Regions from separate parts of the Homo sapiens genome. Here all the other regions are linked to region 3. The links come from fine-mapping of genetic effects on gene expression. A gene starts in region 3. Each other region holds a variant in brackets. All regions are shown on one strand. Distances are from middle to middle. Region 1 overlaps SIPA1L1 (signal induced proliferation associated 1 like 1). Region 2 has its middle 170 kb from the start of SIPA1L1. Region 3 holds the start of SIPA1L1 (signal induced proliferation associated 1 like 1).

What was found. PIP is the estimated chance that this variant, and not a neighbour inherited with it, causes the effect.
Region 1: its variant is fine-mapped to the expression of SIPA1L1 in whole blood (TOPMed, PIP above 0.99).
Region 2: its variant is fine-mapped to the expression of SIPA1L1 in whole blood (TOPMed, PIP above 0.99).

Annotation. Positions count from the first base shown.
Region 1 is chr14:71,551,195-71,562,198 of GRCh38, reverse strand. All of the region lies in intron 4 of SIPA1L1 (signal induced proliferation associated 1 like 1), which reads right to left. Among named protein-coding and RNA genes, the nearest start is that of SNORD56B, 160 kb to the right of the region's middle. RefSeq lists a silencer at 6,057-6,156 and enhancers at 6,577-6,636, 6,747-6,806, 6,967-7,026. The variant T/C (reference allele first, on the strand shown) is at 6,025.
Region 2 is chr14:71,142,322-71,153,325 of GRCh38, reverse strand. No RefSeq gene overlaps it. Among named protein-coding and RNA genes, the nearest start is that of SIPA1L1, 170 kb to the left of the region's middle. The variant G/T (reference allele first, on the strand shown) is at 4,931.
Region 3 is chr14:71,314,981-71,325,984 of GRCh38, reverse strand. SIPA1L1 (signal induced proliferation associated 1 like 1) reads right to left here and starts at 5,509. Exons shown (of 24, transcript NM_001386936.1): 1 at 5,482-5,509; 2 at 4,804-4,863. SIPA1L1-AS1 (SIPA1L1 antisense RNA 1) reads left to right here and starts at 4,137. Exons shown (of 4, transcript NR_184180.1): 1 at 4,137-4,311. RefSeq lists enhancers at 884-1,183, 5,871-6,030 and a silencer at 4,591-5,610.

The DNA.
Region 1 (11,004 bases), 240 kb before region 3:
TTGTTATACTGACCATAGTATCCCCAAGAGTCTAATGCACTATCAGGCACATAGATTGAGACAATATAGTATATATATTATGAATAAAATATATAATTACTTACATTAAAAGTTTACACAAATTGTTCAGAAAAAATATTAATAGATCTTTGTGAGGTGACGTCTATGGCTAACAAATATTCTACACCAAGAATGTATCATTTTACAACGTGAAAAAATATACTGTGTTACTTAAGAAAGTAACAGACTAATCAAGAACAGAAGAATGCCATTTACAAGAGGAAAAAAAATAAGTAGGAAATATTTAGCCTGGGCCGGGCATGGTGGCTCACGCCAGTAATCCCAGCACTTTGGGAGGCTGAGGCAGGCAGATCACCTGAGATCAGGAATTTGAGACCAGCCTGACCAACATGGTGAAACTCCGTCTCTACTAAAAATACAAAATTAGCTGGGCGTGGTGGCACATGCCTGTAATCCCAGCTACTTGGGAGGCTGAGGCAGGAGAATGGCTTGAACCCAGGAGGAGGAGTTTGCAGTGAGCCGAGACCATGCCATTGCACTCCAGCCTGGGCAACAAGAGTGAATGAAACTCCATCTCAAAAAGAAAGAAAATATTTAGCCTTACTACCATAAAAGAAATTCAAAGTAATTCTTCACTTGTTAATTAACAAAAAAATTTTTAATTGCCAATAATCAATGCTGGGGAAATTGACAGAAAAACTTTTATTTTTATATCTTGCTGGTGGGCACTGCGAATTAATGCTATTGGATTGTACAATGCTATTGGATTGCGATCAGCTAAATGTTTCAAAAGACATTAAAATATGAAGAATCTAAAGAAAGTAATATACAACATTAAAAATAACCTATATAAAGATGGAATTATAGCATTGCTAATGGCAGCACAAAATGGAACTAAATGTATAACTGGGAAATGATTAAGTACATTGTGACACCAAAGCAATTTTTAAAGTACTATACTACATGGGAAAAATTTTATGATATGGTAAGCCTAAAAAGTGGAATATAAATGTATATATATGATGATCATTGCCCATGTTTTTTGAAAATGAATCTTCAAGCCATTTTAATTACAAATAAAACAAAATTAATCTTCTAGAGAGCTACTAAAAAGAACTCTTTTTAGAAAGCATAAATTCATTAAATAGCTTTCAAATTTCAATTTTAGAGTGTTATGACTCAATTCCCATTTCATCATATACTTAATAACAAGGAAGTCTCTAAAACACAGTATTTGCTATCCTAATATCTAAATCATCCCCTACAATGACAGGATATGTATGACTACAGAAGAATATCTGAAGAACCTGAAAAAAAATCCCTAATTTATTCCAGAAGACCAAGAATCAAGAAGTCAAAATGCACAGGGCTTCTAAGTTTATCTAATACATACTGTCCTCACTCCAGCAGGTATGGAAGACACAGTCCATTAACTAACCCATACTGTTCTCCCAATTCTTTACTAACAACAGATTCTCAAGTTGTTCAGGTGGGTGTGGGACACCTTGGTGTGTCCTAGAAGATACATCAGGAATTTTCTAAATTTTCTAATGGACTCTTTTGCCCTGTGGCCATGGACTGGTTTAGGGGTAACTAGTCAGGAACAGATTAGTCCTAAATCAGGACTAATGAAAAGTAAACAGAAGCCTGCAACACTCTTTAGCTTTCCTGATAAAAAGGGACTGATTCACCTAGCCTTTACCTGCTACCTTCTTACTCCCCCTTCTTCCTCCTGGAGTACATGGTACCTAGAAGAGCAACAGCCATCTTATCATTCATAAGACTAGCATGAGGAAAGATACCAACACAATCAAGGAAAAAGCTCCAGGGTCTCTTGTGGCATCACTGAACATGTGTAACAGCCCTGGACTGTTGATTTCTGGGGCTACTTTTTATGTGGGAGAATTAATTTCCTTTTGCTTATGCTACTAGAGAGGTTTTCTAATGCTTGCAGATGACTGCATTCCTGACACAAGTAAATCTGAATAGGTAAATATGAATTTTATTCACAAATACTTAACAATTTAATTTTTACTAAAAGTAGACAATATTTTGATCAAAGATAAAGTTTAAACAGAAGTTTGCAAGTAGAATGAAGAAACGAATGAACACATTAATGGTAGGTAGATTACAGTAGGGTCTTAAGATGCATCTTTAAATTCAGTTACAATAATCAGAGTCCACTAAAAAATATACAAATATCTTACATATGGAGCATAAATTTAGTGTGTTAATGAAAAAGTCTCACTCCCCCAGCCTATTTTTCAATGATTATTCAAGGACAAGTTTTCCATGTCAAGTCCAGTTCAGTAACATGAAGTGAAACTTTATACAAAAAAAAAAAAGTTTATATAATTCTACTTTGAATGGGAATAAACTTATTTTTTCAATAGTTAGAAAACATGCTTTTGGAAATTTTAAGAATTACATTTTAATTTCGTAGAAAAAATGCAGAAAAGTTTTTATTCTGTTCACAACCATAGATCAGGTTAAAAGCATACTCATGATAAATCAGGAACCAGGTCAAAATCTTTTGGCTTTAAAAACAATTGTTCTTTTTATTACTCTATACTTATTTGGCAGGTAAAGAAAATGTTACAGTGTTTCACATAACATCTCTATGAGACCCTTACCACCATAAATGATAAAATCATGAATGCTTGACAATATTTTACAACAATCCTGGCATAAAATTTTTCTGGGAGAGTCCAATGCCACTGGGCAGGGGAAAATCTATAAAAAGTACCTATTATTAAGAAAAGTTGGAAAAACTTCCTTTTGATGCCTTTCTCTACAAAAAGTAAAGCTGAGGCTGGGCACAGTGGTTCAAGACTATAATCTCAGCACTTTGGGAGGCCGAGGCGGGCAGATCACCTGAGGTCAGGAGTTCAAGACCAGCCTGGCCAACATGGCGAAACCACCTCTCTACTAAAAATACAAAAATTAGCTGGGTCTGGTGGCGCATGCCTGTAATCCCAGGTACTCGGGAGGCTGAGGTAGTAGAATCGCTTGAACCAGGGAGGCGGAGGTTGCAATGAGCTGAGATAGCGCCACTGCACTCCAGCCTGGGAGATAAGAGTGTGACTCCATCTCAAGAAAAAAAAAAAAAAAAGTAAAGCTGAAATTACGATTGAGTAGAAAATGAAAATGTTGACATCTGCTGCTAGTTTGCATGCATCAAAATGCTTCGGCAAGGCCAAGTGCCCTGGCTTACACCAGTAATCCCAACATTTTGGGAGGTCAATGCAGGAGGATCACTTGAGGCCAGGAGCTTGAGATCAGCCTTGGCAATACAGCAAGACCGTGTCTCTACAAAAAATAAGAAACTTAGCCAAGTGTAGCGGCGTGCACCTGTAGTCTCAGCTATTTAGGAGGCTCAGGTAGGAGACTTGGTTGACCCTGGAGGTTTGAGTATATAGTGAGCCATGACTGTGCCACTGTACTTCAGCCTGGGTGACAGAGCAAATCCTGTCTCTAAAAAAACAAAAACAAAATGCTTCAGGAAATTAAAAAGAGACTCCCAGATTATCTAGATTCACAAACTAAACCTACATCAGCAAACTACCTAAGTGCACATATGCCCGTTCAACAGCAACCACGGCTTTCACCAGCCTTCCACGCCATTTCTGATTACAGTTCTGGTTACAGCCAAGTGAAAACAGAGAGAGTGGTTAGCTAAGGCTCTTTAGTAACCTTCTCCCAGGAGAGAAATCTACCTTGAAACATGATGGAGCTCTCCACTGTCTGTAGTTTCCTACTGTCTCCTAAAAACCTATCACTCTTGATGTTATCCAGAAAATTAATGGCAAAGGTAAACCCAGGTTCATCTTTAGAAAAACAATGCTCTCTATATAGTCATGAGATCACCAAACATCTCATACAATGGCTGGTAAATTCTAGGTACTCAAGCAGAAGTATTTCTTTTTCCTATAATTTTAAGTCCGTGCCCTGATATTCACTCAACAAATATCCATTATTCCATAAATATTTGAGGCATCATTCTACATGCTGAAAATACTGCCCTAAAAATGTTTATATTTACTTTGAGAGACAGACAATAAACAAACATATGATGTAAGAGTATCACTACATACTTAGGCTTTAAATTCAATAAAATATTTTTTTACCTATGTCACCTGGAATGCCAACAAGAATATTACTTCTAAAAGTGAGTTTTTGGTGTAAAAATCATGAGACAACTGATTTAAGTATCACAAACCAACACTTAATAATTACCTACGATGTAAGTTAGCAATATTCATTTTCCAGCAAATTGGAAGCATTTTCACTTCAATGGATTTATATATTTCTAAAAAATTGAACTTGTACAAATTAGAAATATAGCAGTTATCACCATAAACTATGTTGGCAGTCAACTTGAGCCTAATGCTACAATCCATAACTATCACAGGAAAGTAAGGTAGGTTTTTTTATATCAGTTACATCTGAAAAGAGTCACAATTTCTGGGCCTCTTAAAGTATGAACTCACATAGGAGTCAATCATGACTAGTTTAATTTTATTTTACTTTGTTCATTTTCATATTTGTATTCAATAAGGTACTTTCGCAACGATCCAAATGTAACAGAACCACAGATTAACACAGAATTAAACAGGCACTCACATCTCAAGTACCACATCAAAGCCAAAAGTTAACAATTAGTGCAAGTGGCCCCTTTGTGCAGAGAACTACAAAAATACAACCTGTAGTAACCATGATCAGCAGCAAAGTGCTCCTAATTCTCAAATAGTGGATTTCTTTTCTTATGAAATTAATGGGTGGTAAGGACTTAGTTTGAAATTAATAAAATATCAGGGAAAAAATGTGATATCTAATGGGGAAACATTTTCCATGAGCAAAACTAATGAAAGAAATCACAAAAGAAAACATTGACAGATTTGGGTACATGAAACTTTTAAACATCTGTACATTAAAAGGCAAACCAAATACTAGTTTAAAAAATACCATAAATACAACGCAGACTGAATACACTGAATATATGCAAAGATTTGTGAAGGAAGATAAAATACTAAGATTCCAAAAGAAAAATGGGAAAAGAAGTATTAATGGGTATGGTGTTATGATAGCTATATTGGTTTTTGTCCACAGTTCCTAGCTCCTAACTCCCACAGTCCTTGTTATAATGCTGGGGTACTTTAGGCCTCAGGAAACAGAATCTCTCTCTCTCTGACCTCCTGTCCTTTCACCTGCCCAAGGCAGGGCTCTAATCTGATTGTGGATCAAAAGACACTCATTCCAGAGAGTCCTGCTCCATATCCTACGGGAAGGAAAGCTACACAGAAAGGCCAAGAAAAGTCTGAATAGACAGGCCTTGCTGGATTTAGATAATGTGCTTTTTGTCCAATCACATTTCTACACGGTTGTCAACCAGGCCATGTAATAAAACCTCCTTGTATAAAAACCCAAAGGACCAGGTTTGAAGAGCTTCTGGAGAGGTGAACATGTAGAAGTTCTTGGAAGGTGGCACGCCAAAGGAGGGCACGGAAGCTCCGTGCTCCTTCCCTGATACCTTGCCCTACACAACGCTTCATCTGAATCCTTTGTAATATCCTTTTAAATAAATCAGTAAACATGTTTCCCTGAGTTCTGTAAGCTGCTCCAGCAAATTAATTAAACCCAAACATGGGGTTGTGGGAACACCAACTTAAAGTTGGTCAGTCAGAAGTCTGGAGGCCTGGATTTACCAATGATGTCCAAAGATGTAAGGGGCAGTCTTGGGGACTGAGCCCCCAACCTGTGGAATCTGACACTATCTTAGGGTGGATAGTGTTGGAACTGAATTGAGAACATCCAGCCAGTGTACGCTGTTTGGCATGTGGAGAAAAAAACCCACAGCTTTTGTCACAGAAGTGTTTTCTGTGTTGATGATTGTCATGGTGGTATGAAAGCAGAGGAAAGACACGGTTTGAGAGTTTTTCTGAAACAGTAGGCAATTCACAAAAGAAAAAATTGGTTAAACATTTGAAAAATGTTTCTGTTCAA[T/C]AAATACAATACAGGCACACCTCATTTTATGGCACTTCACTTTATTGCACTTTGCAGGTGTTTTTTTTACAAATTGAAGGTGTGAGGCAACCCTGCATTGAGCAAGTCTGTCAGTGCTATTTTTCCAACAGCATGTGCTCACTTCCTGTCTCTGTGTCACATTTTGGTAATTCCCACAATATGTCAAACTTTGTCATATTATTACATCTGTTTTGGTGATTTCTAATCTGTGATCTTTGATGTTACTACTAATCTTTTGGGGAATGCCACAAACTGCACTCACAGAAGACGGCAATCAATCAACAAATGTCAAACAATCAACAAATGTCGTTTGAGTTCTGACTGCTCCACCCACCAGCCATTCCCCATCTGCCTCCCTCTCTTTGGGCTCTCTAGTCTCTGAGACCACAACACTGAAATTAGAATGGCCTCTAAGTTCAAGCGAAACTTGAAAGTGAAAGGAAGAGTCACAGGTGTCTCATTTTAAATCAAAAGCTAGAAATGATTAAGCTTAGTGAGGAAGACATTTGAAAGTTGAGAGGCTGAAAGCTAGGATTGTACCAGTTAGCCAAGTTGTGAATGCAAAGGAAAAGTTTTTGAAGAAAATTAAAAGTACTACTGCAGTGAACACATAAATGATAAGAAAGCAAAACAGCCTTACTGCTGAGATGGAAAGTTTTAGTGTTCTGGAGAGAAAGAAGATCAAATCAGCCACAACATTCTCTTAAACCAAAGCCTAATCCAGAGCAAGGCCCTAACTCTCTTCAATTCTATGAAGGCTGAGAGAGGTGAAGAAACTCAGAAGAAGAGTTAGAAGCCAGCAGACATTGGTTCATCAGGTTTCGGGAAGGAAGCTGTCTCCATAACATGAAAGTGCAAGCTCACCAGCAAGTTATCCAGAAGATCTAGCTAAAATGATTGATAAGGTGACTACAATAAACAACAGATTTTCAGTATAGATGAAACAGCCTTCTCTTAGAAGAAAATGTCATCCAGGACTTTCATAGCTACAGAGGAGAAGTCAATGCCTGGCTTCAAAGGTTCAAAGAACAGTCTGACTCTCTTATTAGGGGCTAATGCAGCTGGAGACTTAAAGTTGAAGCCAATGCTTATTTACAATCTGAAAATCGTAGGGCCCTTAAGTATGCTTTAAGAAAAATAAGAGGTATTAATTTTTATAAAATGTGCTCATTAGCTACTGGAAGAGTGAAATTGTTGTTTTTTTTTTAAATTAGGAATATGTATCGAGAGCCTTTAAAATGCTTACATACTTTTTTTCCCAGTTATTTTATTCCTGAGTATTTTTTAAGGAAACAATTCAAAAGACAAAATTCTGTGCAAAAAAAGGGTTCATCACAGCATTATTTAGGATAGCAAGGAGCTATAAACAACCTAAATGCTCCCAAACTATGTTTATAGCAATAAATATTATAAAAAGTGTGGTAGCCCAAGTGTAGCAGATCAGGGGAACAAGAATGAAATTCCCAAAACCTCACCAAAAAATTTTATGAAGAATCAAATCACAGGATGTTGTAATTTGTGAACTGTTATCTTTTTCTTATCAATATAGAAGTTAACAACAACAACAACAAGCTCTCTTTATACAGAAGGTCACCTGTGGGAAGTGTTACTCAAGAATGCTGAGAACATCTTCGGTTTCACAGTGGGGCAGAACTGACAGGGAGCTAAAGACTGAAAGCAACAGAAAAAGAACATCTTTTCTCACCAGCCTACATCAGAAAAGCAGATACATTTTTTTAACTTTCTTCTTTAAAAATCTTTATATTTTTTATTTTTAAGTCTGTGGTGTTTAAGTTGCACGATTTTAAGGTCATCTGCTTTTAAATTCAATATCATGGCTTCATGTGTGCAAAGAAAGCAGTAATACTGTTTAAAAAGAAATGAGGAATCTAAACTTCCTTAAATTAACATTTGAAGGTTTGAGCACAGTGAAACCAAGGTTCAATATCAAGACATTAATTTGTTCAGAAAAAAAAATACTGTATCTTAAACAGAAAAAAATCTCTAAACTACCTTTGCTGAACAGAAATAACGTATCAGTACCATGTTCCTACAAACTAACAGAAGATGCTACAGGTCGTAAATATTAAGAAAGAAAACTTTTTTCTCTAATTTTATATTCATTCTTGCTACATTTGAAAGGACTGAACGGAATATTCCATTCAGATAGGCCAAAGTTCAAAGTCTGTACCTGGATGAGGACATGAATTTCAAACACAAACCACAATCTGAAAAATAGTCTGTCTCTAGTTACTTTATACAAAACACTATGCTAAGGTCTCAATTTAAGAAAGCTGACAAGAATTGCATTTATTCAATGAATCAATCAGTTCTACACTAAAAACTAGGTTACATACATTCTGATATTTGTTTTCTATATGAAAAAAAAAGAATTGTATATGATGTAGAGTAGCCCTACCTAAACAATACAATGGGATCTCTGAAGCACAGAAATCTATAAAATGGGTTCAGGCCAAGGAAAAAGTCTCCTTCCCTACACATTCCTGGTATATTTTACCTTATCTCAGAATATCAATTCACAGGTCTGTTCAAATTATACTGTTAGCATTTCCTAAGAAAAAATAAGCTCTGAAAAACATGCCTTTCCTATCTTGACATCCAATTAAAACATTCAAACTAATACCCTATTTGGCTGACTGAGGTAAGGAGGAAGAGAAGAGAGGAAAAAAGAATGCAGAAGCAAAATGTTTTTTCCTCTTCTGTCATTACTGTTTTTAACTTAACATGTCTCAAAGTGTTTAGCTCCATGGTGATGGGAGCAGGCGAAAAATATAGAAACACTGAAAGAACAAATTCCCCCAGAATATTTTAGGGTTCCTAACACAAAGTGTACTGTGGAATTATAGAAACATACAAGTTGAAAATAGATTCTTATAACTTAGTAATGGTGGAAGATGAACAATCTTTCCTTATAATAGCTTTTAAAAATCTGCTACATTCACCCCACCAAAAAAGCTGAGCCAGATTTCTATCTGATTTTTTAAAAATTATTATCTCTCAGTATAAAGGAAATAGAAGAAAAAGTATTCATTGCTTAGAAGAGTGGATTTCAACAGGGGAGACTCTGCCCTCCAGAGTGACACTAAGCAGCATTTGGAGATATCGGCAATCTGAACTGAGGAGGCGCTATTGGCATCTCGTGGGTAGAGGCCGGGGATGCAGCTGAACATGTAATTCCACAGCCCTTCACAACAAAATTATCTGACCCCAAATGCCAGAGTCCTAAGGTTGAGACCCTGGTTTAGAAATACTTTCGACACTGAAATGTGCAGATTTATAACCACTCAAGTTCCAAAAGACAGTCCCTTAGGTCAAAGTAAGGAAGGAAGGCTCCAAGGCACTCGGTAGTCCCCACAGACTGATGTATGGAATGACTGAACTTTCATACTAAGGATACAAACTCAAAAGCTGCTGCAGGAGAAAAGTTCAACCATTCAATAAATTACCAGCTTAAAAGAAACAGGATCCCAGCACTCTGGGAGGCCGAGGCGGGCGGATCACAAGGTCAGGAGATCGAGACCATCTTGGCTAACACGGTGAAACCCCGTCTCTACTAAAAATACAAAAAAAAAAATTAGCCGGGCGTGGTGGCGGGCGCCTGTAGTCCCAGCTACTCGGGAGGCTGAGGCAGGAGAATGTCGTGAACCTGGGAGGCGGAGCTTGCAGTGAGCCGAGATTGTGCCACTGCAATCCGGCCTGGGCTAAAGAGCGGGACTCCGTCTCAAAAAAAAAAAAAAGAAATAGGGTATGGGAAAATACATTTGTAAATAAACCTAAAATTTTAGCTAACATAAAATCAGTATAACCTATTAAATGAAGATAATATCAATGATATTCTGTACCTTTTGTGGTAGTAATAATAGCTATGGTACAATTAATTTCCACTTACTGGTTCTTGCTTGCTAAAACTTTCAAGATCTCAAAGTTTTAATTAAATGGCTTAGGATACATTTATTCTTTACTACAATTAATAATATTTTCTGGCCCTTGTTCTGTGAACTGTCCTAAAGCCTGGGGAAAGGATGGCGGGTACAGCAATCAAAGCCATCACTCTTGAGGGGCTTACAGTCTAGTAGGGGAGAGTGAGAACAAGCAAATCAATAAACAAGATAAACGTCAGATGGCTAGAAGTGCCATGCAGAAAATTAAAATATAGTAATATGATCAAGAGTGGCTGGCTGGCTGGCTACTTTAAACTGATTTGGTCAAGGAAGGCCTCTTTGTGAAGTAGTCATTTAAGATAAGATGACTAAATGTCATGAAGGAATCAGTAACACAAAGCATGAATGTTCCAGGCAGAGGGAAGAGCAAGTGGAAAGACTCTGGGACATGAGCAAACAGCGTGTCCAAGGTAAAGAGTGCCAGTGTGGCTGGAGGGGAAAGGGAAATGACCCAGAAAAGAAAAGACAGATGGTGTGGGGCTGTGAGGAAGCTTGCAGGGCCTGGTATGGGGTTGGACTTTAAGAGCAACATGAAAGGTTGCAGGTTCCACATCACTGTCTCATGACATAACGCAGCTCAAGATCAAACCAGCTTGCATTAAGGTGGGATCAGCAGAGATGCAGAGAAGCAGACAGAGTTGGACACTTTTGGTAGTAGAGCCAACTAGGCATACTGATGGATTAGATGTGGTTAAGAAATATGTTACTGATGGGTTTAGAAAGAGATGAATCAGGGATAACTGCTGAATGCTTAGCTTGAGCAACTGGACAGATGATTCTCCCAAGGAATTTCAAGTGAGACAGAAACAGGTTTAAGGACTATAAATAGGGAGACTAGCCATCCTGGTTTGCCTGGGAAGAAGAGGTTTCCTAGAATGTGAGACTTCAGTGTCAAAACCAAGAAAGTCCCAGGAAACAAGGATGAGCTCATTACCCTAGACACACATCAAGGTTTTTGTTTTGTTTTTCAGCTCACTACAGCTTCCAATTCCTGGGA
Region 2 (11,004 bases), 170 kb after region 3:
CTCTAAAACCGGAGCTCTTTTATCTGCCTTGCCAGGGTTTCCACCTCCCTATCACCACCTGTATGTGTACTGAACAGGAACATGAGGGCCCAGACAGGCAGATCGGCCTCCATGGCCAGGTCCACCTGGGCCCACTGAAGCATCGATAAATTATGATCATCAGCTCTGACCTCAGGTAGTTGGACTCATGAACTCCTTCTTAAGACAGAGGTAGCTGTGAGGTCTTTTTCTGCTTTTCTCATTGAATGGCTACCAAGCCTGACCAACTTGTAAGCATCTTCAAAAACACTTTTTTCCTTTAGTTGTATTATGTCTAAAACCAGTAGAGAAAATTGCCTTTCAGAATAAAATTTGTAGCATGATCATCAGTAGCCTATATTCTAGGCAGAGAACAGCATCCTGACCAAAAGAAGAGGTCTTTGAGCTTCAATTTCCTCATCTTTATATTGAGAATAATCATCAGCTTTTTATCTTTGGTGAGAGAGAAGAAGTAAATGTAAATGTATGCTTTGTATATAGTAGAAACTCCAAAAATTATACCTATTATTTTTTAATTGTTAAGACTTCTTTCCAATACCCCTGCAGCTCGCAGGTCTATGAAGTACACACATTTATACTGATGTAACTAGGCCTCATTTACAAATTCATTCAGAAAATATGTATTGCTGAGTCTTGACATCTTTGGGCATGACATGAGGATAAGAGTCATAACACCAGCTAACACATGCATAGTGCTTACACCCATCCAGGAACTGTTCTGTCCTTTTCATGTACTGACCCACTTAACCATCACAACCACAACCCTAATCTGGAGGATCCCCATCTTACAGATGGGGGAGTCCGAGTTGAGAGGGACCAGTGAGCCACAACTCTCAGAGCTTAACCCCAGCGGCCTGGGTGAATTTCTTACACCTCCTGTAGCTACACCAGGCTTCTCACCGTTCTCATTGCTGTTCCCAGGTGTTCCTCCCCTTGGAGAATATTCTAGCCACCTGTATTAGCCCATTCCCACATTGCCATAGAGAAATTCCTGAGACTAGGTAATTTATAAAGAAAAGAGGTTTAATTGGCAGGGCTGTGAGCCAATTAAACCTCTTTTCTTTATAAATTACCCAATTAAACAGGAAGCAAAGCAGCTTCTGCTTCTGGGGAAGACTCAGGAAACTTAGAATCATGGCGGAAGGTGAAAGGGTAGCAGCCACATTTTATGTGGATTAAGCAGGAGGAAGAGAGATAGCAGGGAGGTGCTACACACTTTTAAACAACCAGATCTCATGAGAACTCACTCACTATACAGTACCAAGGTGGGGATGCTGCTAAACCATTCATGAGAACTTTGCCCTCATGATCCATCCAATCACCTCCCACCAGGCTCCACTTCCAACGTAGGGGATTACAATTGAATATGAGATTTGGATGGGGACACAGATCCAAACCATATGATTCTGTCCCTGACCCCTCCCAAATCTCATGTTCTCACATTCCAAAACAGAATCATCCCTTCTCAATGGTCCCCAAAGTCTTAACTGTGTCCAGCATTAACTCAAAAGCACAAAGTCCGAGTCTTATCTGAGATAAAGCTAGTCCCTTCCACCTATGAGCCTGTAAAATTAAAAAAAAAAGTTAGTTATTCCCAAGATACAATGAAGGTACAAGCATCGGGTAAATACTCCCATTCCAAAAGGGAGAAATAAGCCAAAAGAAAGGGGCTGCAGGCCACATGCAAGTCTGAAACCCAGCAGGGCAGTCATTAAATCTTAAGCTCCAAAATAATCTCCTTTGACTCCATGTCCCATATCCAGGGCACACTGGATGCAAGGAGTGGTTCCCAAGATCTTGGGCAGCTCCAGCCCTATGGCTTTGCAGGGAATAGCCCCTGTGGCTGCTCTCATTAACTGTTGTTGAGTGCACATTGCTTTTCTAGGTGCATGGTGTAAGTTGTCAGTGGATCTACCATTCTGGGGTCTGGAGGATGGTGGCCCTCTTCTCACAGCTCCAGTAGGCAGTGCCCCAGTGGGGATTCTGTGTGGGGGCTCCAACCCCACCTTTCCCCTCTGCACTGCCCTAGTAGAAATTCTCAGTGAGGGCTCTGCCCCTGCAGCAGGCTTTTGCCTGGACATTCAGGCTTTTCCATACATCCTCTGAAATCTCGGTGGAGGGTCCCAAACCTCAACTCTAGCACTCTGAGTACCCACAGACTTAAGACCATGTGGAAGCTGTGAAGGCTCATAGCTTGCACCTTCTGAAGCAGCAGCCTGAGCTGTACCTGGGCTGCTTTGAGCTAAGGCTGGAGCTAAAGCAGCCAGGATGCAGGGAACAGTGTCTTCAGGCCGCTCATGGTGGCAGGGCCCTGGGCCTGGCACACCAAACCGTTCTGTCCTCCTAGGCCTTCGGGCCTGTGATGGAAGGGGCTGCCATGAAGGTCTGTGAAATGCCTTGGAGGCCCTTTCCCCATTGCCTTGGCTATTCGCTCTTGCTTTCCTTTTAGTAATGCGAATTTTTGCATCTGGCTTGAACTGTTCCTTTGGAAATGGGCTTTTCTTTTCTACCACATGGCCAGGCTGAAAATTTTCCAAACTTTTATGCTCTGCTTCCCTTTTAAATATAAATTCCAGCTTCAAGTTATTTCTTTGCTCGTGCACATGAGCATAGGTTGTTAGAAGCAGCCAGACCACTTGTTGAACAATTTGCTGCTTAGAAAAATTATTCAGCCAGATCCATAAATCATCATTCTCCAGTTCAAAGTTCCACAGATCCATAGGGCAGAGGCATAATGCAGGCAACCTCTTTACTAATGCATAACAAAGGTGACCTTTGCTCCAGTTCCCAATAAGTTCCTCATCTCCATCTGAGACCTCCTCAGCCTGAACTTCACTGTCCATATGACTATCAGCATATTGGTCACAACCATTCAACAAATTTCTAGGAAGTTCCAATTTTTCCCTCATTTTCTTGTCTTCTTCTGAGCCCTCCACACTCTTCCAGCCTCTGCCCATTATCCAGTTCCAAATCCGCTTCCACATTTTCAGGCATTTTTATAGCAATGTCCCATTTCTCAGTAACAATTTTCTGTATTGCCAAGACCAGCTCAGTCATGGGGACCCTAACCCAGTGGTGCTAGAGGAATTAAAGATACACACTCACAGAAATATAGCATGTGGAGTGGGAAATCAGGGGTCTCACAGCCTTCAGAGCTGAGATCCTCGAACAGAGATTTACCCACATATTTATTGACAGCAAGCCAGTGATAAGCGTTATTTCTATGGATTGTAGATTAACTAAAAGCGTTCCTTACAGAAAATAAAGGGATGGGCCGAAATAAAGGGATGGGCCTGCAACAGGAACATGTCCTTAAGGCACAGATTGCTCATGCTATTGTTTGTGGTTCAGGAACACCTTTAAGCAGTTTTCTGCCCTGGGTTGGCCAGGTGTTCCTTGCTCTCATTCTGGTAAACCCACAACCTTCAGCGTGGGCATCATGGCCATCATGAACATGTCATGGTGCTGCAAAGATTTTGTTTATGGCCAGTTTTGGGGCCAGTTTATGGCCAGATTTGGGGGCCTGTTCCCAACACTGTATTAGTTCGTTCTCGCATGACTATAAAGAAATAACTGAGACTGATAATTTATAAAGAAAAGAGGTTTCATTGGCTCACAGTTCTACAGGTTATACAGGAAGCACAGTGGCTTCTGCTTCTGGGGAGGCCTCAGGAAACTTAGAATCATGGCGGAAGGTGAAGGGGAAGCCGACACGTCTTACATGGATGAAGCAGGAGGAAGTCGGGGGGCAGGTGCTGCACACTTTTAAACAACCAGATCTCGTGAGAACTCACTTGCTATACAGTACCAAGGGGGGGTGATGGTGCTAAACCATTCATGAGAATTCTGCCCCCATGATCCAATCACTTCCCATCAAGCCTCACACTGGGCATTACAATTGAACATGAGTTTGGATGGGGACACAGATCCAAACCATATCACTGCCATTTCCTTCCTGGTGCACCTCCAGCATCACCTTCTCTTCCCTCCCTTTGTATTGTTTCCTACCCTACTCCTGCCTCCCTCCAAGCCTTCTCAATTCCCTGCTCTATTGTAGGTCTTCACTGAGACCTGTGACAGCCCTCAAGGGCAGGGATGTGTCTGATTCATCTACGCATCTTGGGCCTGGTCTATCCAGGCAGAGGCAGCCTTTCCAGAGAAGAACTGAGGGAACAAGAACTCAAAGGAACAGACCAGGAGCTCCCTGGCTGAATGGAAGTAGGGAGAATTTTACAATAGTGTCTGGATTCTTAGAGTACTGGCCCATCTCTGTACTTCTTAGAGTATAGGAGAGAAGAGTTGACATCCAGAAAGCCATGAGACCTCATTGAAACAGCAGGGAAATCTGCCATTTGGAAGGCATGGCAGGAACATCTCCTGCCCTGACTCCCTTTTCTGAGACAGAGAGAAGCACTCACAGGAACATCTGCCTACACAGCTTATGGGAGCAACCACTTCCTGTAGACCCTGGTGAGGGCTGGCTGGGGAGAAGAGGAGGGCGGCAGCAGCCCAGCATGTTGCCAGGTGGCTAAACCTCAAGGACAGTATGTGCCCAGTGGATCCCTACGCTGATGTCTCCAGGCTGGGTTTAGGCTGGCCCCTTCTCTTGCGTTTGGGCTTTGTATTGTGGGAGAAGTTTCCCATAGATTGTGTCCTAAGACAAGAGAGTCAGGTCAGGAGAAAGACTTCCTGAGGCTCCCTGAACCTAAGCACCAGGTGCAGGGGCCCAAGGCTTCATGGCTGTGGGGTGCCACGTACCCGCTTTGGCATGTCCAGGAGAACTAAAATCCATCCAATACAAAAAGGGAAAAGTCCAGGGGATTTCCATCAGACAAGAAATCATAAAGTTGTACATGTTTTGCCTGACTTGAACCCAGTTAGATTTCTAGGC[G/T]GACCTGGGGAAGAAGTCAGTGGGCCAGAAGGCCACTTTCTTATGGGACTTTGGCCTCTGACTATTGCCGGCAGCACTGGACCAGGAATGTCTTGAGGATGGGGATGGAGTATGACTCTTTTTTGCATCCCTAGCCATTAGCACAATCCATGACATACACTGAGTTATCAATAAGTGTAGGGTCCAGTCCCACAGGGTTGATGGGCTTTCTTCCCATGTGCAGAGACGAGAGAGTGTAGAAATAAAGACACAAGACAAAGAGGTAAAAGAAAAGACAGCTGGACCTGGGGGACCACTACCACCAAGACGCAGAGATCAGTAGTGGCCCCAAATGCCAGGCTGCGCTGATATTTATTGGATACAAGACAAAGGGGCAGGGTAAGGAGTGTGAGCCATCTCCAATGATAGGTAAGGTCACGTGGGTCACATGTCCACTGGACAGGGGGCCCTTCCCTGCCTGGCAGCCGAGGCAGAGAGAGAGAGAGGAGAGAGAGAGACAGCTTATGCCATTATTTCTGCTTATCAGAGACTTTTAGTAGTTTCACTAATTTGCTACTGCTATCTAAAAGGCAGAGCCAGGTGTACAGGATGGAACATGAAGGTGGACTAGGAGCATGACCACTGAAGCACAGCATCACAGGGAGACTGTTAGGCCTCTGGATAACTGCAGGCGGGCCTGACTGATGTCAGGCCCTCCACAAGAGGTGGAGGAGTAGAGTCTTCTCTAAACTCCCCCAGGGAAAGGGAGACTCCCTTTCCCAGTCTGCTAAGTAGCAGATGTTTTTCCTTGACACTGATGCTACCGCTAGACCACGGTCCGCTTGGCAACGGGTGTCTTCCCAGATGCTGGCGTTACCGCTAGACCAAGGAGCCCTCTGGTGACCCTGTCTGGGCATAACAGAAGGCTCACACTCTTGTCTTCTGGTCACTTCTCACTATGTCCCCTCAGTTCCTATCTCTGTGTGGCCTGGTTTTTCCTAGGTTATGATTGTAGAGCAAGGATTATTATAATATTGGAATAAAGAATTATTGCTACAAATTAATGATTGTTATTCATATATAATCATATCTAAGATCTATATCTACTATAACTATTCTTATTTTATATATTTTATTATACTGGAACAGCTCATACCCTCAGTCTCCTGCCTTGGCACCTGGGTGGCTTGCCGCCCACAAATAAGTTTTTATTGATTGAATTAATGAATAGAAGGATAAATAGATAAAAATGAATGAAATGAAGATTAATAATGGATCTTAATGATTCTAGTTTAAAATGCCAGTCATTAGCTAGACCACCCCTCCCACCACCACCACCCAGTAACTAACATCATCTTCTTTCCCAATAATTGGACATGCTTTGTGATAACTTAGGTCACACCTGCCAAGATATCCCAAATTTTACCTACCAAGACTAGAGAACAAGAAAATTTCCATGTGTGCTTCCAGGATAAAATCATTAGACCTTATTAGTTGAAAGACTTTGAAGAACACTGTAACTTCAGTTTCCCAATCTGTAAAATGGGGGTAAAAAGCATAACTATCTCCAATTGTGTCCTGAATTAAATGAGATAATTCATGTAAAGCACTGAGCTGAGTTCAGGGCATCTATTAAATTCTTAATAAGTGCTAGCATCATTATTACCATCATTCCTGGTAGTCCAGGATACCTTTTCTTTTCTTTTCTATTTTTTGCTACAGGGCCACCCACTCAGTCTGCTCCCCAGGCTGGAATGCAGTGCACAATCATAGCTCACTGTAACCTTGAACTCCTGGGCTCAAGCAATCCTCCCACCTCAGCCTCCTGAGTAGCTGGGACTACAAGCACGAGCTACCATGCTTGGCTAATTTTGAAATTTTTTTGTAGAGACTGGGTCTCATTTTTGTTGCCCAGGCTGGTCTCAAACTTATGGCCTCAAGCAATCCTCCTGTCTCAGCCTCCCAAAGTGCTAGAATTGCAGGCATCTACACTGCACCCGGTCTCAGGATACTTTTTCAATGGACTTTAATTCCTTCATACTTTCTGTTTTATAATATTTTGGAGAGTGGGATTTCCCACCCTCAATGTTATTCTTGCCTGCCAAGCACAGGTGTTCTGTCTTTGAAAAGGACAGAGGCTTCTCTTTGAAAGACAGAGCCCCAGGACGGTGGTGGATGCTGCCGCCTTCGGAATATGGTCTCCCCAGAGCAAGCTGGACTGTGAAGTCTGCCAGCCCCAGAGGGACTGAGCAGGAACTAGGTTGAGCAATGGCCTGGTGGCCACTCTGGATCTCCACACTCCCGTCCCGCCACCCCCACCTGCAACAGAGGGCACTCCTCACTCCTCTGGTCTGGGGCTCCCCAGGACAGCTCCAGAGGGCAGGTGCTCTCACTCTGCCCACAAGACTGCTGAACACTGTTAATTTCAGAGCCATAGGGTGGATTCTTTTTCAGGTTGTCAGCAGCATCTATCCCCAACACAGATCCCCTGTCGGCTCCAGCAGGCCTCATTCTGTGAAAGGAAATGGGAGACTCAGGGTCAAATCATTGGAAAAGACAGGAGTTCAGGCCTTGACAGAGCAAGAAAGAGGTCAAAGCCTGAGTTACTAGCTCTACTGGGCTTAATTTCCACATAGGAAGGTAAGGCAAACACAGCAGTGTAGCACGTTGTTGCTGAACGGAACTCAGGTTGATCTGGTCTGACTTTTCCATTGTTCAGTTGAGGACACCAAGAGGCTTGGTAGCCCTGCCCAAAGTCACAGAGAGAGCTTGGGCTGAGCCTGGACTAGACCCAGGTCTCAGGCCTCAGGCTCGACTACCCTTTTTTGTAAGGTCTAGTTTTTGTCGTAAGGGAATGACCACATTTTGTTGAGGCAGCCAGGGACTTATTGCTACCGGCATCTAGTGGGTAGAGGTCAAAGATGCTGCTGAAAATGGCACACATATGACAGCCCCACAATAAAGAACTGTCATGCCCAGAGCGTCAACTCAGCTGACTCTGTTGGCGAGTGTAGGTAACACTCTAGGCTGATCACCCAAGCTTCCTGGAAGAGTGGAATTGCAAGAGGGGAAAAAAATGCAGTGGAAATAGCTTATAGTTTAGCATTTCCACTGTTTGGTGAGAAAACAGGTGTAGTGTCTTTTTTCTGACACTTCTGATACCAAGTGTGTGGAGAGTGTTCCACACTCGTGACCCGTGACTCTGACATCAACAGGAATCCAACAGTCAATTCAGTTCTAACTCCTGGAGTTAGAGCCAACAGTGCATGTTCAAGGCTCCGTCCCAGACTGCCCCTGCTTCAGATGCCAGCCACAAGTCCAAGAAGCCGCCCATACTTCTGACTATACATTTGGGAGTTTCTACAACCCCTTCCTCAGTTTTGATAATTCACAGCTCATAAAACTCAGGAAAACGTATTAATTAACATTTGCCCATTAATTATAAAGGATACAATTCAGGAACAACCAAATGGAAGAGCTGCATAGGGAGGGTGGCAGCCACCACCGTCCTGGGGCTCTGTCTTTCAGATGCACCATCCTTGAAGCGCATCAATGTCTTTCTTTTATTTTTTAAACAGGGTCTCACACCGTCACCCAGGCTGGAGTGCAGTGATGAAATTGTAGCTCACTGTAGCCTCGACGTCCTGGGCTCAAGCAATGCTCCGGCCTCAGCCTTCCAAGTAGCTGAGACTACAGGCACATGCCACTATGTGGCTAAACAAAAAAAATTTGTTTGAGGGGCTGGGCACAGTGGGTCACGCCTGTAATCCCAGCACTTTGGGAGGCTTAGGTGGGAGGATTGCTTAAGACCAGGAGTTTGAGATCAGTCTGGGCAACACAGTGAAAGCTTATCTCCACTAAAAATAAAAAAAGTTAGCTGGGCATGGTGGCACATGCCTGTGGTCTCAGCTACTCAGGAGGCTGAGGTAGGAGGATCACCTGAGCCCAGGAGGTCAAGGCTGCAGTGAGCTGAGATTGTGCCACTGCACTCCAGCCTGGGCAATAGAGTGAGACCCCCCCGTCTCTTAGAGGCTGGTCCTGAACTCCTGGCCTCAGGTGATTCTCTCACCTTGGCCTCTTAAAGCAATGTTTTTCTCAACCCAGAAGTTCTCTGAATCCCTGTCATTTAGGTTTTATTCTTGTTTTTATTAAAACAAAATTTTTTAAAGATATAGGGTCTCTCTATGTTTCCCAGGCTGGCCTCAAATTCCTGGGCTTAAGCAATCCTCCCACCTCAGTCTCCCCAGTAGCTGGAATTACGTTTCAGCCACTGCATCTGATTTCACTTAGGATTTTTTTGGGAGATTTTTATCTGACTTCATTTAGGAGTGTTTTTGCAGGGAGTGGGAGGGCGGGGGCGGGGATTTTAAACACAGCTTTGCTGCTGTGCTTCTCTTACTTTCCTACGTGGAAATTAAGCTCACTAAAGGTAGTAACTCAGGCTTTGACCTCTTTCTTGCTCAAGGTCTGAATTATGCAGGCATGATTGATGAAATCATTGGTCATTTAGTGATTGGACTTTATCTCCAATCCCTTTCCTCTCCTTGAAGGTCAGAAGTGAGGAGGTGGGGCTGAAAGTTCTAATCCTCTAATCACATGGTTGATTTTTCTAGTGACCAGCCCCCATCCTGAAGCTATCTAGGGCCTCTCCATGACTCATCTCATTAGCATACAGGACTATCAGTTCCAAGGATTTTGAGGCGCTGTGTCAGGAACCAGGGACAAAGACCAAATATTTATTTTGTATCATACCACAGCAAGCCCCGGATGGCTCAATGTCTTGGGCTGAAAGGAAGGGGCTGTTTGAGTCAGGAGACAAGAGAACAACAGTGGGAGGTGTCCTCTGTGTTCATACTCCCCTGTGTGGTTTGGTGAGCCTCAGGCTTTACAGGATGTAGGTGATGTGGGCCCTCCGTTACCTCATCTTATACTCAGGCTATGAAATGCGTCAGATGCCAGCCTTCTTGTAAAAGTTGGGGAGAGGCTGCTATGGTCAGAATGTTTTTGTTCCCTCCAAAACTCACGTGTTGGAAACTTAATCCCCAATGCAACAGCATTGGGTGGTGGGGTTTACTGGGAGGTGTTCAGGTCATGAGGGTGGAGCATGAGTGGATTAAAGCCAGTCTAAAAAGGGCTTGTGGATGTGGGTTCCCTCTGTTCTGCATTTCTGTCCTGTAAGGAACAGTGATTGCCCCTGCTCCGGAAGATGTAATGTGTAAGGTACCATCCTGGGGGTGGCCCTCTCCAGACACCAAGCCTGCTGGCACCTTGATCTTGGACTTCCCAGCCTCCAGAACTGTGAGAAATAAATTTCTGTTCTTTATTAATTACCCAGCAATTTTTATAGCTGCACAAAATGGTTTAAGACAGAGGTCATAGCAAGCTTCAGTTTTTACTTTTTCCCCTTGCATCTGAACAATTGCAAGCAGAAAGAACAACTGAGTGCTTTATTTCTGCAACCACCATGCTGCTACTGAGTGAAGGGGAAGGAGGGGTAAGAGCTTGCCTTCTTTCCTTGTGTTAATTGCAACATCTTCCAAAACCCAGCAAGGAAGGCATGAAGTGAGCCTACCAAGGCCAGTCTCCAGATGAGGGGACTATAGCTACAGATTGCTATGTTTCCTGTTGGTGGTGGTAGCAAGATTTCATAGGGGCCTTTCTTGCCATTGCTCAAAATGAAATGCATTGACACCAAAGGAAGTGGTGAAACTGTGGGCATTGTATGCTTTAGAAATTTGATATTTGGAAACCTGCAGACCTGAAGAGGCAGTAGCTTCTCCTGAAGATCTGATATCCAAGGGCTACCCAGACAAGGAGCTGACTTGTCAGGAAGTGTGGTGGACCTTGACGCAAAAACTCAAACCACAAATGTTTCACTTCTAAATTTTTGCAGGCTTTGTTATATAGACATTTTTGTTAAGCCCTGTCTAAAACAATAGGATGACTGGGTTCTTTCCCCTCCTCATGGTGACTACGTGCATCTTCTACGAACATTCCCATGTCATGTGGTCAGCTTCCAAGAAAGACTTTACCAATGAGTCTGTTTACAGATTCTCAACCAGAGGACTTACAGGAATGCACAGTAGCTATTTGTT
Region 3 (11,004 bases):
CCGAGTTTGTGTGAACCAGCAATTCTCCCTCCCCAAGCTGGCATTCATAACAAGCACACATTCTCCTGCCTTTCCTGAATTGGAAAAAGGGAAATCTAACATTATGTAATTGCCTGCTTCCCGCAATTTCAACTTAGGCATACTAAATCCTAATTAGAGGGAGAACTTAGTGCAACATGACAAGCAACAAATTGGAAATCTACAGGTTGAAATTTCTCATCCCAGACTCCAGAGGCAAAGAGAAATGGCTTCGCCTGACTTTGTGGCACACCCACCAATGCACTACTACTTACTACGGGCCAGCTAAAGCAGCTCCTGACATCCCTCCATGTCATTTTGGTGTCATCTCTCTATGCCTTTAAGAAAACACTCTGTTCTATTTGCAAATGGGGTTATCTTACTCTCTCCAGGCCAGAATAAAAGGAGAAAATGGTTGTTGACTGGTGAACATTACCTACCATTAAAAGATCTGCCCTGATGGTTTTTTGTACCCTCATGATCACAAACCAAATCACTGTGTTGCTCTGTCCCTTATGCAAATCATCCATGTTTAAAAGACCCAGAAGCCACAAATCTTTCCCATGCTTCTAAGACTCACTCCAGAGCTCATCAACAGTCCACTGAATAAAAATAAATGAGCTATCATTTAAGAATAATTAACTTAAATATAACCTTTGAAAGCAAGGTGTCATCAAAGCATGTGGGTTTTGTTTTTGTTTTTGATTAGCTAGGCATAGAAAAAAACTAAAAGCAAAAATTCAATGAGGCCAATTGATTTCCCATACCAAAAAAGTAGAAGTGCAGCAGATAGAAGGTCAGATTGTCAGTCTCAAGGGATAGTGGAACACCCTTATTTTACTGCGTCTGTCTGTAGAATAAGACCCAAACTTCTGTGTGAGCAATGGCAGAATACCACAATGCTTATCTCTCCCGGAAGAAGGAAACCCCCTCACCTCAAGGGCATTCACCCAACCAGCAGGGAAGTTTCTTCTCTGCTGGCTCAGATTACTCCACTGGAAGGTAGGGTGGCGCAACATAAATCAGTCCCATTTTCAACAGGAAGCTCCTACACGTTCCTGTTTTATGTCCTGTTTTATCTCTCCACCTAACACCCCCAGCCCCAATCTCTGGTTACCCTTACATGTCGCTGAGAAAAAAGGTCTAAAATTTAGTTGGCCATGGTCCAGAAACAAGGATGGTACACCTAATTTCTTCCGCAAATGGAAATGAGTTTAAAAAGAGAAGAAAAAGATGAACCAAAATAAACTGAGTTTAGCTTTTCTAAAGAGCTAAAGAGTACATTATGCTCTGTGCAAATAAAGATTTCTTTAAAAATGAAACAAAACAAAAAAGCCTACAGGCTCTACTATGTAGAAACTTTAACTCATATTTTCTTTTTCTGTAACTTTGTCATTTAATTATGAAGCTCGGTTACCAATGTTGTTTTCATAGCTTTACAACCTCACCACAGATCGTTCGTTTCCTTAAGTTTTGCATCTCCTCATTTTGGATATTTAATAAATACTGAACTCTTAAGTGGGGGGAGAAAGTAGTAAAATTTTAACATAACAGGCTCTAAGGTAGGAAAAAAAGAAAAGAAACGAGTGCAATTAAATATGGACACCTGTCTTCCAATCACTGCCTAGTCATTAACCAGTTCTATAACCTTCAACAAATCACTTCAACTTTCTGGGCTTCAGTTTCCTCATACGTAAAATGGGAAACATGAGCCAAATGAGTCAAAATCCCTCCTAGTTCCAACAATCCATGAATCTGTCCAACAAAAAGTAAGAAAACCCTATTACAAATAAGACTTTATAGTTTACAAAGTACTTTCATACATGTATTCTCATCAATTTTTGTAGCTCATCTGTGAAGCAAGTCTTGAGCCCATCTCCGCAGGAAACAACAGTAAAGTTCAGAAAGAAGTTCAATTATTTTTCAATATCTCACAACGAAAATGGCAGGGCAGGTATTTGAAACCCAGACCTTCTGAGGACAAATTCTAGGTTACATTATTTCAAAATGTTAAAATATATTAAAATTCAAAAATAATTGCCTATTATGTATAACCTTTACGAGGGCATCAGGGTACCATAACTCCATGCCAGAAAATATTACTACAAATGGTCCCACTGGACTACAAGTTCCATGTGGCCAGGTACACTCTTGCTCATCACTGTAATCACAGAAACCAAAAGTGCACCTGCCAGATAGCAGCATTCAATAAATATTGCTTGACTCACCACTCAAAAGGTTAGGAATATAGGGATGCTATGGGGAAAAAAAGAAATTTCTGAATTTATTTTCAGATTTGAACTTCCATGATTTGATCCAAAGGGGAAAAAAAAAAGTGTGCTCTATCAGCGCTCTAGTTCTTTATTATGGGAATGAGTCTATTTGTCTTCCATAGAGAAAATCTAATATGGTCAGTGAACCAAAAGGCTCAAATCTGAGATGTCAACAAAAAATCTTCAGGATATTCATACTTCATTTGTGCACTGATACGGACCAATAACAATGATAATACAACGGTAAGGACTGATAAGAGGCACATAGTCACATTATTAATCATGACAAACTTTCCATCAAATTCCACTCTCATACCATTTCAGCTCTCCTCATGCTCCCATTTCACAGCTCAAACAGATTTTTAAAAAAAGAAAAACAGTCATTTATCTAAAAATTCAGATTGCAACTTAAGATAGAACATATATACATCACAACTCAACCAAGATCCCCCCGAAGTCTACAAAACTGCTAATCTCAAGCAATCTTCAATCTATGACTTCAATAAACTCACTAGAAAGTGTTTTTTAAAAGTTCCTAAACAATGAAGATGGGGGCACTATACCAAAATTACACACATACTTCAAAGCAAAAGCAAAGCAAATGCAGAAGCCTGAAAATACTAGTGTAAGGACAGAGACAAAAGAAGAGTTAAATGAATCTCAGTACAAAGTATCAGAGAGGTGCTTTGCAATTATTACCTGGAGTTGAAGTCAACCTTGCCATAGACTCCTCCAATGAAATCACAACTATCACTGACTGATACTTCAGATTTTAAAAGTTCACTGTACCAGAATTGCAATTTCAAACTCGAGGAGCAGAAGCAGGAACTGCAGAGAAGCTAACAACAGCAACACCTACTGACTGTCTCAAGCCACTCACCAAACTTGTTCACTCAGTCAACTAGAAAAATCAAATGACAGTCAACTTCAAGAGTCCTTTACTTAAGCATTAATAAGAAAATTAGTTGTCAGAGACATAAAGCCATTCATCCCCCAAATCTCTTATTTTGCCTCTAACCATTTATGTGGAAACAATCACTCATCATTTTAAATGCACTGTTAATTGTTAATGCTTTAGCATAATTGATTCCATGGGAAAAATGTTTTAATATTAATATTGTAGTTAATAACTGGGATGTCATCTAATAGTTGGACACATCGGTGGCCATAATAAATTAGCTGAGACCTACTGTTATTACCACTGTTCCATATTATCCTCTTTTTTAAATCCTGGTAAAGGTAGCTTAATTGCAGCTTTCAAAAAACGAAGAGAAAAATGACAGTCGTTAAATCAGGATTATATAGAAAACTAATATTATTACTAAACTGGCTGCAGAATTCAGTATGATCTAACCTTGCACGTTTCCAAAAGATTCAGTCAGAGAATCTTTGCCTTGGACGGATACTCCATAGGAGAAAACAGGAGAAAGTTGACACTTAACTCCCACAGAGTACCAGCATAAAGACAATGGCTTTAAGAGTCTGACTCAGAGTTTCAACATGAAAGGTTTGCTTTATAGAGGAAACGCCAATCCCAGTCCATCCAGATAGACCTGGAACCTGATGAAAGTCGACACCTTTATTCTGAAATTTGCATCACATCGCTGGCTCCAGTTTAGAAACATGATCGTTTCACAGGTAGTATGCATTTCAGCGAATGCTGCCTCTAAACTACCCGTCAGGAAAAATAAAATCTATAAGGTAATCGTAGTCTAGGAGCCATCAATCCCCAAATGCTTCTCTTAGAAAACGAATGCCAACAATTTAGCTAAACATCTTCCTTGGAAGTGAGCCATTTCCCATGTCTCTCTGTTCTCCAAACCGCGATGAAATTTCAACCTGCCCAACACGATTACTGGTCCACCTAGAAATGCCGTGGAGCGATTTAAGAGCCTCGGAAATTTCCTTTAAGGTCAGGAGAGAAGCTGGTAACAGATGGGGCGAAGGAGGAAAAGTTCTTTTTGCGGCACCCTCACGCCTTCCCAGCCCTTTCGCGGTTTACTCGCTCCCCGGAAAGCAGGTTAGAGCATCCCAAAATTTCATGTCCCCAAGACCCCCAAAGGGGAAATTAACCACCCTCGGGCACCGAGCTGTTCGTCTCCATTTCCCACAACTCAACCAACTCGGCCTGCCTACTCCAGCTCAGGCTGCAAAGCGCTCACCCAGGTGACTGGAGGGGAAGGGTCGCCAGGTGGCGACCAGCTCAGCGGGGTGGACGCAACCGCCCGGACCGGGACGCGGGTCTCCTGGCCTCCCGCAGAGACGCCTGCCCAGTAGTTGTGCAGATTCGGGTTCTGGGGTGCGTGCGCGCGCGCCGGGCGCGGTGAAGCCGGACTCGCCCCCGCCGGGCTAAGCTACCAGCAAGCCACCAAATCGAAAATCAAACTTTAACCGGCCTCCTGGGGTCCTGCTCCGGGCCCTGGACCCCAACCCCGGCCAGAAACAGGGCAGGGGGCTGTCAGCCGTCCTGCACCCCCGCTCCCCCCAGGACCCGGGCGCGGGGACCACTTACCGCTCGGCCCGGCCTCCCGGTGCCGCCGCGCGTCCCGGGCGCGTCCGCCGCGCGCTCTCCCTGGGGAGAAAGAGAAACCGTGTAGACGGCCGGCGCGCGCTCACTCGCCGCCTCCTCTGCGGAGAGCGGCGAGGCCGGCCCGAGGCGGGCGCCGAGCGCGGAGCGGAGGGGGGCCCGAGGGAGGCGGGGGTGGAATCAGCCCAATTCCCGAGGCTGGCTCCGAGGGGGACCCGGAATACAGGCTGGCGGGGGGCCGGCGGGGGCCGAGCTCCCGGAGGAGGGGAAGGCGGAGGTGGCCCCGTCCTTGGGCATCAACTATTGTCTAGGCGCCCGGGCCCCCGCTCGCGCCGTCCCCGAGGCTCAGCGCCCCCATCCCGCCCGCCAGCAGAAAGAACTGAGGGGGCGGCCAGTACGGGAAGCAAGTGCGGGGGTCCGGGCTCCGAAGGTCCAAGGTGGGCGCGAGGTTGCCGGGGGGGGGATGAGGAGGTGCGTACCGCATGGGGGAGGGGACAGGTAAGTGCGGACGGGGGCGGGAAGGCCCCAACGACCGGTGGGGGAGGAAATGGGGAGGGAGCCACAGAGGCGGGAGGGAATGGAGTGGCTGCGGGGGCGGCCTCTGGGGCCCAGACCTGGCCCTCCCCGGGGACCCTCCAGCCGGGGACTCGGCGCTGCACTGACTTTTCGCTCACTCGCTCACGCACGCACTGAACTCGCTCACAAAGTTGCCGGCAGTGGCGGCGCCTCACTCGCCCTTCCCCTCCCCGCCCCGCCTCCCGCCCCATTCCTTCCCCTCCTTCACTCCTCCCTCTCCCCCAAGTCTCGGGTGAGATCACCACGGAGCGGCTTAGCGCGGCGCACAAGTCTCGCGAGAGAAGCGGCGGCTGGGCCCTGCAGGCGGAGGAAGTGGAAAAAGTCGCGGGAGGGTAGGGGACCGCGGAACTTCTGGTTGCTATGACGACGGCAAAGCCCTGGATTCCTGTCTCCTGCGGAGAGCAGAGGCTGCAAACGTGGGTGCAGTTTTCAACCTGCCCGGCGCACTGGCGGTGGGGAAAGCTAGGGGTGGTTGCGGAAGGATAATTTTTAAGCCGATTCAAGAGGGCATCTCGAGAGGACCACAGTCATGATATCTGGCCAAATTTGGCAAATGAGACTAATGTATTAAGAGGTTCTGGGACAGGTTTCTGCCTTTCTAGGCAGCACATATCTGCACCCCAAATTTCTACTATATATTCAGTTTTTCGGCCTTCTCTTTCAATCTAATTCCTCCATCCCCACACTCCCCATGCTGCCTCCCTCCTCCTCTTCTCAACTCGCAAACACACGCAGACTGGGCTCCTTCAGGAACTGGCTCATTCATCTCTGTATTCTCAGCGCCTCTATAGGCTTGGTCCATACTACATATTGGCCACTTTTTTGACAAGTTGAACGCAACAGTCCATGCCTGTCCTCAGTACTTGCCTTTGGCCCTAACCTAGAGAGTTCAGTCAAGTTTGGACTCTATCAAGCTACCCTCCCATTTCTGTTAACACCTTGTCTTTTTCAATGGTAATAATCTCTGCTTTCTCCATATTTTTCTCGTAAAAACCCTATTCACCATGGTGAGGGGAACTTTTTTTTTAATCATTAGGCATCCGCAGACGCCTTTATACGTACTCCAAAATGCTAGTAAGGATGAAGATGAACTCTCCTCAGCCCGTGTCTTTTAACTGTAGAAACTTTTCTGAGGTGAGGGTTATTATATACTCACTGCCTAAGTAAAATGGATATTATGAATAGAAGTTAAACTTTAGATTTCAAAATGAATGAGTAAAAATAGATACCATTGTATGTGGATTATATCTCAATTTTTAAAATTCCTATCCATGAACATGGGGAAACCATTATTTAACTCAGTCCCACAGAACTAGAAACCTAAAGCATAACCTAAGCATATGAGGACTAGGCAGTCAAAACTTGTAAGTCACTTGCAAGTTTAAATCCTGTCAATGAAAGTTTGTGTATTAGAAACCTAAGTGATACTAGACAAAGTCAGCAAACTAGGGTTTACGTTTTTCTGTGCCACTAATAATTGAGTCTCCTTGAGAAGTTATTTAATCTCTCTGATTCTTCATCTGTGGGGGGTACCCCACATGTTAGGTTATTACAGCTTTAAAATTCTATAGCTGGCCGGCATGGTGGCTCACATGCATAATCCCAGCACTTTGGGAGGCCCAGGTGGGAAGACTGCTTGAAGCCAGGAGTTTGAGACTATCCTGGGCAACATAGAGAGACCCTGTATCTACAAAAATAAAAAATATTAGCTAGGTATACTGACATGCACCTGTAGTCCCAGCTATTCAGGAGGCCGAGGCTTGAGAATCACTTGAGCCCAGGAGTTAAAGGCTGCAGTGACCTCTGATCACACCACTGCACTCCAGCCTGAGCAACACAGTGAGATCCTGCATCTAAATATATATACACATATGTATGTGTGAGTATATATATATATATATATATATATATAATTTAATATAAGAGCTCTTAGACCTATAAAATTTTCCAATAAATAACAAATCTTCCTTTTACAGCAAATGATAAAAAAAGTTTCATCTTATAGTAGGTCAGTTTCACAAAGAGTAGCTATATGTTGACAATTTTCTTTAAATGTTGACAATTTTATTTTAAAATTTATCTTGTCCCAACTACAAAAACAACAAAAATATTGACCATGTTACAGTAATTTCAAAGGTAATCTATAGTTCATGATTTGCTTTTACACTAACTCAAAGCAGATTCCTTGTTATTTAATAAATACTCTAATTAAAACCAAAGACCCAAACTAAATACATCCATACTCCCAAAATAACTATAAGGAAAGAGGGAGGGAGGGAGGAAGGAAAGGAAGGAAGGAAGGAAGGAAGGAAGGAAGGAAGGAAGGAAGGAAGGAGCGAAGACTAGATCTGTGGAAGGAAGGAAGGGAGGGAGGGAGGAGGGGAAGGACGGAGGGCCTCAGATTCATTTACTGGTGTGTTTAATATCACATTTTCACAAAGAAACACAATGGAACATCACCATCAGTCCTGTGAATCTGTTTTAAGGAACCATTTTTCATAACATTGCAAAATATTATAAATCAGTTGTTGCTCATTTGTTCTGGCTTAGCTTTTAACATAATTTTGCCCTTAAAAGATGGCTGCCAATCTACATCCACCAACGCAGTACAATTTCAGGACCATCTGTTTTATGACTCCCAGATAGCCATTTGAAATAATTGACCCAAATGCTAGCCAAATCTATTAACATTCTTCAGTGCTTCATATAAGGCTCAAGAGATGGGTGTTGGCCTCAAATTACAAAAATAACCTCCCTAATCTTCAGACATAGTAAAATAGTAGAAATTGTCCCAGGGATCTAAAACTGCTTTTTCAAGGCCCTGGGCTACTATTTATCCCTCACTGATGGCAGAACTTTCATCCGTGTTTCTAAAGGAGATAAAAAGTGAAAGCTACCAAAGCCTAGTTTCCAACTGCACATTCTCTAGGTCAGTCACTCCTGCTGTATCTTCCTGACCTTCCTAGGTTTCAAAATAGCAGATGTCAGGCAGCAGAAGAGGGAAATGCGGAATGGAGAGTTTGCCAAGAGCACAGACTAGATCTCAGTCCACTTCCTGTCCACTGTCTTGGCTCCTCTACCCATCTCTGCTCAACCCCTTGCCTTTGCCCTCCAACACAAAGGATATGTAACCTTTCTAGTGATAAGAACATCTAGTCATTTGCTATGTTGTTCCCTCCCTATTTGCTTCTTATTTCGTTAAAACCCAGGTGAATTCATTTCCCTCTGGTTATTTACCTCTACTCAACAAAACACCCTAATGTATAGTGTATACCAAATATAGAATGAATTTTGACACAGAGGCCTACCATACAAATTTTATGTATTTTTTAATATTATAAACACTGACTCACATTTGCATGTTTTACATTTAAAATCTGATTTAACTGGCCTATTCAGAACTCCAGTAGCTGTACATCTGCAGGGCATTATTCTAAGTGATATTTAGAAAGATTACTCTAAATCATTACAAAGGTCCAAAGTGCCCTCAAAATTATTCAGGATTAAATGATATCCCATGTTGTTTTAATTTTAGGGTGTTATTATTTTAGCCTTATTGATGTAACTCTGTTTACATGAATACTGGATTCCTTAGCAAATGCCCCTTCTCTCATTTACATAGTAGTATTCATTACAAGTTTAAAACACCAACTACTTTATAACGTTGTTATAAATAATTATAACGTTCTGTTAATCAATTAACAGCAAAACTACTATACTTCCCTGTGCTCTTCCCTCCTCTTTAAAGGACTGTTTCACATCTTCTCCTCCTTAATCAAACCTCTGCCTAGTACTTCTAGCTAATGGCCTTGCTCCCTCTTTTGTTGGTAAAATAGAAATAATCAGAAGAGAACTGAACACACATACCCTCTCTATCACTCTTGTCTACCAACCTGCCTGCATCTGTCTGCATATACTCCTCTGTCCTTCCTGTCATTTATGAACTCTTGGTGCTCTTAGCCAAGATTAGCCTCGGTCTGTGCATTAGTGCCATCACCTCTAACTCAGGGACATTGATTCAGCAACTGTCCCCACTCTCTCTTGAATCAGCAAATTTTCCTTCTCTACTGCTTCACTTCTAAGGGCTTACAAGCATACTGGAATATCTGCCGTGGTAAAAACTAAAATGCTTCCTAAATTTTATGTCTCCCCCTGCTTCACTTTATAACTGGAATCTTCAAAAGGCTCTTCCATGCTTGGTGTCTTCAATTCCTATCCTTCCCTTCCCATGAATCCACTCTGAGCAGCCTTTCACCCCCACTACTCCACAGCAACAGGTCTTCTCAGGGGCATCAGTGACTGCCTTATTGCTAAATCTGGTGCTCAACTTCCAAGCTCACCTGGCTGGAGCCCTCAGCAGCAGGGAAGAGGTCAACCATGCTGGTTCTTGAAATGTTTTCTTCCCTTGGCTTCTGAGCCAAGAGTCTATCCTAGTTCTTATCCTACCTTTCTGGTCTTTTTAGTCTTGAACCTCTCAACATAGGAGGCTCCAGGACTCAGACTTTGGACATCTCTTTATGGTCTCTTTTCACTCTGTGGTGAGCTCACCAGTCTGATAGTTTTAAATACCATCTATACATTAAATACTCCCAAACTTACACCTCCAGGCTAGTCATCTCCCCCATCTCCAGATTTGTACATCCATCTGCTACTCAACATCTGCAATTGATTATGTACTAGGTATTTCAAATTTCACATGTTTAAAACTGATGAGCTCCAAATATTCCCCCAAAAACCAGTGCCCTCCTGAACTCCAGATATCCCTCTCAAAACCGGTTCCCTCTGGGAGGCTGAGGTAGGTGGATCATGAGGTCAAGAGATCGAGTCCATCCTGGCCAACATGGTGAAACCCCATCTTTACTAAAAATACAAAAATTAGCTAGGCATGGTGGCGCGTGCCTGTAGTCGCAGCTACTCAGAAGGCTGAGGCAGGAAAATCACTTGAACCTGGGAGACAGAGGTTGCAGTGAGCCGAGATCACGCCACTGCACTCCAGCCTGGCGACACAGCAAGACTCTGTCAAAAAAAAAAAAAACAAACACTTCCCTCCAGCAGTCTTCCCCAACTCTGTTAAGGATATCTTCCCAGAGGTTCAGAGGTTTTGTTCAGAGCCAAAGTCTTGGAATCATCCTTGACTCCTCTATTTCTCTCTCATCCAAACCATCAACAAATTCTGATGGTCCTTTCTTCAAAATATGTGTAGAATCCAACCACTTCCACCCACTGCAGCTCCACCTCTCTGATTCAAGCCATTTCTCACCTGGATTATCACAATTGTCTCTCTACTGGTCTCCTAGTTGGTTTCCCTACTCCTGCATTTCCCCTCCAATAATTTGTTCTACACACAGGATCCAAAGTGTGGAGCATGAGTAAGTCTAATCTTGTCACTTCTCTGCTAACAAAGTTTCCAGGACCTCTCACCTCACTCGGAGAAAAAGCCCCAGTTCATATTCTGGCCCAGGAACTGTATATTCTTTGACTCCCAATCCCTCCCTCTCTCCCCTCCCTCTTTCTACCCCAGCCACACTGGCATTCCTGCTATTCATTGACTATACTTGGTGCTCTACTGCCTCCAGGCCTTGCATTTGCTCTTTCCTCTGCCTGGAGAGC